2 separate regions of the Homo sapiens genome follow, and region 2 is linked to region 1. Evidence: fine-mapped expression QTL. A gene starts in region 1. The other region holds a variant in brackets. All regions are shown on one strand. Distances are between the middles of the regions.

Region 1 (2,905 bases):
AATAAATTTAAATAATTTGTCACACACTTATTCTTCAGAGGTTATATGAAATTAAAGATGATGGGCTTCAGGCTGGAGAACATTTTCTCTCACAAAGCCATTCATTTTTTTAACATCTGGCCCTCATCCCCAATAGGACAGTGGGTGGGACTACCCAGATACCCTTCTAAGAGATATACTGAGGTTTGAATTCTACATTCCTAAAACTGAATGGAGCTTTTTGCTGCTATTTCACATGTACCTCCTCCCCCACTTTCCTTTAAACTGGAACACTGATTCTCCTTTGAAAAAGGAGTATTTTCCTTTGAATAGGTGATGGGCAAATTCTCAATTTGTTCAGATGCCTTGGTAGGTTTAAAAAAAAGTAAACAAACAAAAAAACCCATAATTTAGAAAAAACAACAACAACAAAAAGACGCAAAAGACCTGAAGCCTGAGACTTTACCTCACTCTTCTTGGTATGTTGCCTTAGCATTTCATTTGTAACAAGGATGTCAAAAGGGAAAAGGAGGTCAGTGGCTTGAATGACCTGAGGTGGGGGTAGGTTCCTGTTGCTTAAGGAAAGAGCAAAGGGGACGAACTTCACTGAGGCGCTAAAAACACTTTGATGGAAGCTGGATTTTCGAAGAGCCAAAATATTAAACTACAGACAAAATTCAAAGAGTGGGCTGGGTACAAGTAGTGAAAAGGTTAGTCGCCAGGCAGGGAAACACCCGACGGTGGAGGGAGGGGAGGAAAAGTTTTAAATACCCACCACAGCCTAGTGAGCCTTTAATTAGCGTCCCCCACTTCTGACTTTGCTCTTGCCCCCGGAGGAGCTAGCTGCAGGGAAGCAAGCAGCCCTATTTTTAAGCACTTAAACCTCTCCGTTGGACTTCAGAAGGCTTGAGTTACCGGTGTTGCAAATAACGTTTCTTCCTAAACATGAGAAAGCAAATTTGAATTCCCTAGTCAACGCCAAAAGGAAGATAAAGGGACCCCCCCCCCAAAAAAAAGGTAATTTCAGCGTGAAAGAGCGGTGATGGGCGCGGGGGAGGGGAGGAAGGACTTACCGCAGCCTCTGCAGGCTGCCCCCAAAGACTCAGGGCCAGTAAGAACAAGCCGGCAGCCAGGCTGACTCCACGCAGTTTCATTCTTCTCCGGCTCCCGCAGCTCCTTCAGCACCCGCACGAAATTCCCGGCTGGCTCTAACCAATTGACATAATCTTGAGGGTTTATATGGAGAGAGCTAGAGCCGGAGAGGGACAGTGAGGCTTGGGTGAAGAGAAAGAAGCTTTTTAAGAGTGGAAGAAAAAAAAAAGAAGAAGAAGAAGGAGCTACTCTTCCTTCCCCCCTCCCCTCCCCAAAGCCGGTCTCTCAGGAGAACTTTTCCCTTCTGTCCAGACTTGCAAACTTTTTCTTCACTCAATTCCTACAGATCTACTTTCCTCCCTCTCTTCCCCGTGCAAGGCCCCCCTCCTCACCAGCACAAGGGAATTTGAGTATCACTCCGCCACAGTTTTAGACTGCACCGGCAACCTGCGAGGGAGTGACGCTCAGTTATTTGGGGGAGGGAAACTTCCAGACTAGTTGACTGAGCACCATGAGTCCAACCGGGAAGCTTTTCTATTCGTTCATTTGCACCTTCCGTTGATACTACTTTTCTAGGCTCAGTTCCAATCTCATTGGTGTGCGTACCAAAGCCAATTACAAATAGATCTAAACTGGGACTATTTTTTTAGCGGATGGATCTCAGAGGGGCCGTGCTTTTTATTGTTACTCATTAGAAACAAATTTTGGTCGGTGCTCCCTGGGCTGCTGGTCTTCTTTACCTTCCAGCTGCTCACAGAACAGAGAGTTTCTACATACAAGCAGAAGATGTGAAAATATTGGGAATAAATAAAGTATATGCTTATAAACAAGTAAGAAAATAAGTATATGTGCGTGAATACTTTATGTGTGTTATATACGTATAAGATCTGGGAGCATTCAGCAGGTATTGGTAATTATTCTATGGTATTATGTTATTATAATACAGCTATATCTCTGTTTAGCTGCATTGAATCCTATAATTAATGCCTCCTATATTGAGCTAATGTAAAAGGTATTGACTCTCATTGTAGTTGTGTTTCAGAAAGATTTAGGGCAGGGAATTAAATAAATTTAGTGCAGTGTTTCTTAGAATTAATATAAACACTTAATTGGAAATATTTAAATAGAGTTGATGGCAGCTGAATCGATATCTCCCATATAAAGACTTGAATGTTCCTTTGATAATTCTGATATATAGATTTTTTTTAAAGTAACAAAAGAACTAGAAAATACTTTCTGCGGACTCCTTGGAGAATCTTCAAGAATTTGATGAAGAATTCTTCACAACATTTCTATCTTCCTAGAATTAACCACTTTAGAGTCTTTCAAGGTTTTGGATCTATTTCACGAGGGCCCACTCATCCTTAGGTTCTGCTTAGCTCAGAGTGGATTTACAACTCCAGAAACTGTCTCCCCTTCCCAATAGCCTAGTGTACTATCAATTTGAATCAGTGTTGTATGCATTTGGGCATGTGTGCAAGGGCACTTTCGGGCCCATCTGTCTTATGTGGGAATAGTATGCCTATGTCTCTTTATGTGTAACCTAACAGTAAAGTTGAAAGTATATGATGCACAGTTGCTTAGGTCTTAGCGTATAGGTCTCTAAGGGGCTGTGTGTGAAGCTGTGGAGATACTTAGGGCTGTTGTGTGGAAAGGTGCCTGAAAGTGAGAAAGACTACCGGCTGCCCAAGGTAGGGGGGATGATTGACAGCAGACAGCCCCGCCCCTTTCCCCTCCATTCTTTCCTCTCCTGCTGCATGGAACTATCTCCTGAGTGCTGCAAGTTGTAACGGGCACCGCTGAGCCTGTTTCCCTTTGGAGCACTTCTTATCTA
Region 2 (2,919 bases), 700 kb before region 1:
TATGGTATTTGTTGCCTGAATATCTTGGGTGTTTTTCATTGTGTTATTGTTATATAGGTCCTGTGAGATTTATGCTTTAAGGAGGTTCTATTTTGGTGTATTTCAAGGATTTGTTACAAGATTTAGAGATCCTTTCAGCACTTCTAGTAGTGCTGGCTTGGTAGTGCTGAATTCTCTCAGCATTTGTTCATCTGGAAAATACTGTATCTTTCCTTTATTTATGAAGATTAGTTTCACCAGATACAAAATTCATGGCTGATAATTGTTTTGTTTAAGGAGACTAAAATTGGGAACCCCCCCAATTCCTTCTAGCTTGTAGGGTTTCTGCTGAGAAATCTGCTGTTAATCTGATAAGTTTTCCTTTATAGCTTATCTGATACTTTTGCCTTACAGCACTTAAGATTCTTTCCTTTGTCTTCACTAAACGTAACCTGATAGCTATGTGCCTAAGTGATGATCTTTTTGCAATGAATTTCCCAAGTGTTCTTTGAGTTTCATGTTTTTGGATGTCTAGATCTCTAGCAAGATCAGGGATGTTTTCCTCATTTATTCCCTGAAATATATTTTCCAAACTTTTAGACGTCTGTTTTTCCTTAGGAACCCAAATTATTCTTAGGTTTGGATGTTTAACATAGTCTCAAACATCTTGGAGGCTTTGTTCATTAAAACTTTTTTTTCTTTGTCTTTGATGGATCGGGTTAATCAAAAGCCTTGTCTTTGAGTTCTGAAGTTCTTCTGCTTGTTCAAGTCTATGGCTTAGACTTTCCAGTACATTTTGCATTTCTCAATGTGTGGCCTTGATTTCCAGAAGTTTTGATTGTTTTTTACTTATGCTGTTTTGCTGAAGATTTTTTTTTCATATCATGTATCGTGCTTTTGATTTCCTTAAGTTGGACTTCACTTTTCTCTTCTGCCTCCTTGATTAGCTTAATAATCAACCTTCTGAATTATTTTTCTGGCAATTTATAGATATTTTTCTTGGTTTGGATCCATTGCTGGTGAGTGGGTATGATCTTTTGGGGGTGTTAAAGAACCTTGTTTTGTCATATTTGTCAAATTCAGCCCTGATATTTCAACTTGGGTCCTTTTCTATTTTCCCTAAGTGTCGGCCGGTCTGAGAAATAAAGAGAAAGAGTACAAAAGAGAGAAATTTTAAAGCTGGGTGTCCAGGGGAGACATCACATGTTGGCAGGTTCCATGATGTCCCCTGAGCCATAAAACCAGCAAGGTTTTGTTAGCAATTTTCAAAGGGGAGGGAGTGTATGAATAGGGTATGGGTCACAGAGATCACATGCTTTAAGGGCAACAAAAGATCGCAAGGCAGAAGGTCAGGGTGAGATCACAACATCAGGGCAAAACTAGAATCACTAATGGACTTCCAGGTCCAGCTGTGCA[T/C]GCATTGTCATGATAAACATCTTAACAGGTTTCAAGAGCAGAGAACTGGTCTGACTAGAATTTGCCAGGCTGGAATTTCCTAATCCTACCAAGCCTGGGGGTGCTGCAGGAGACTAGGGTGTGTTTCATCCCTATCTACATCTGCATAAGGCAGACAGTCCCAGGGTGGCCATTTTAGAGGCCCCCCTGGGAATGCATTCTTTTCCCAGGGCTGTTAAATATTAATATTCCTTACTGGGGAAAGAATTCAGCCATATTTATCTAACCCGTTTTTGGAAATAAGAGAAATATGGCTCTGTCCTGCCCGGCCCACAGGCAGCCAGACTTTAAGGTTATCTCCCTTGTTCCCTGAAAATCACTGTTACCCTGTTCTTAAGGTGCCCAGTTTCATATTGTTCAAACACACATGATTTATGAACAATTTCTGCAGTTAACACAATCATTACAGGGTCCTGAGGTGACATATATCCTCAGCTTATGAAGATGATGGGATTAAGAGATTAAAGTAAAGACAGGCATAGGAAATTATAAGAGTATTGATTGGGGAAATGATAAACGCCCATGAAATCTTCACAATTCATTTCATTCTGCCATGGTTTCAGCCAGTCCCTCCGTTCGGGGTCCCTGACTTTCCACAACACCTTCTCATTTGAGTAGACTATGCCAGAGGGAAAATCTGGGACTCAAGGGCTGCAGATTTTTTCTTTGTCCCACAGGGTACCCCATTAATGTGGTGTTCTCCCCTTTCCCCTATGGACAGGGCTTCCTGAGAGCTGAACTGCAGTGGTTGTTTTTGCTCTTCTGGGTCTGTCCACCCAGTGGAGCTCCTGGAATCCAGGCTGGTACTGGGGAGTTTCTGCAAAGCATTCTTTAATGTGATCTGTCTTCAGGTCTTTCATCCATGGATACCAGCACCTGTTCCAGTGGAGGTAGCAGGGGAGTGAAGTGGACTCTGTGAGGGTCCTTGCTTGTATTTTTGTTTAGTGCACTGGTTTTATGTTGTTTGGCTTCTGGCCAGGAGGTGGGGCTTTCAAGGGAGCATCAGCTGCGGTAGTATGGGGAAGATACAAGCTTGCCCTAGGGTCAGCTGGACACATATTCTGGTTTCTCAGGCAGTGGGCAAGGCCATAGACCTTTCAAGAGATTATGTGCTCTGTCTTCAGCTACTGGGGTGGGTAGAGAAAGACTATCAGGTTGGTGTGGGGTTAGGTGTGTCTGAGCTCAGGTTCTCCTTGGGCGGGGCTTGCTCCAGGAGCTGTGGGGGATGACAGCGTGGTTCTTAGGCCATTGGTATTATGTCCCCAGAGAGATAATGACTGTCTCTGCTCTGTCAAACAGGTCAACAGGGAAGACCGTGCCACTACCCTTGACAACTTCTGATAACTATCCTACTGTCTATATCCATGTACTCAATTGTTTTGACGTTTACATCCCACAAATAAGTGAGAATATGTGATGTTTACTTTTCTATGGCTGGCTTATTTCACTTAACATGATGACCTCCAATTTCATCCATATTGTTGC

Alleles and levels. Alleles are on the strand shown, and positions count from the first base shown. SD is a standard deviation of normalised expression in the study named.
In carriers of allele C in region 2, the expression in unexposed skin of the gene that starts at base 1,421 in region 1 tends to be higher than with T alone (small effect, 0.12 SD a copy in GTEx).

Evidence for each region. PIP is the estimated chance that this variant, and not a neighbour inherited with it, causes the effect.
Region 2: its variant is the best candidate, but not a certain one, in a credible set for the expression of COL4A5 in unexposed skin (GTEx, PIP 0.55).

Annotation. Positions count from the first base shown.
Region 1 is chrX:108,438,354-108,441,258 of GRCh38, reverse strand. COL4A5 (collagen type IV alpha 5 chain) reads right to left here and starts at 1,421. Exons shown (of 53, transcript NM_033380.3): 1 at 1,053-1,421. The coding sequence starts at 1,133. COL4A6 (collagen type IV alpha 6 chain) reads left to right here and starts at 2,837. Exons shown (of 45, transcript NM_033641.4): 1 at 2,837-2,905.
Region 2 is chrX:109,142,864-109,145,782 of GRCh38, reverse strand. No RefSeq gene overlaps it. Among named protein-coding and RNA genes, the nearest start is that of GUCY2F, 340 kb to the left of the region's middle. RefSeq lists an enhancer at 1,122-1,672. The variant T/C (reference allele first, on the strand shown) is at 1,396.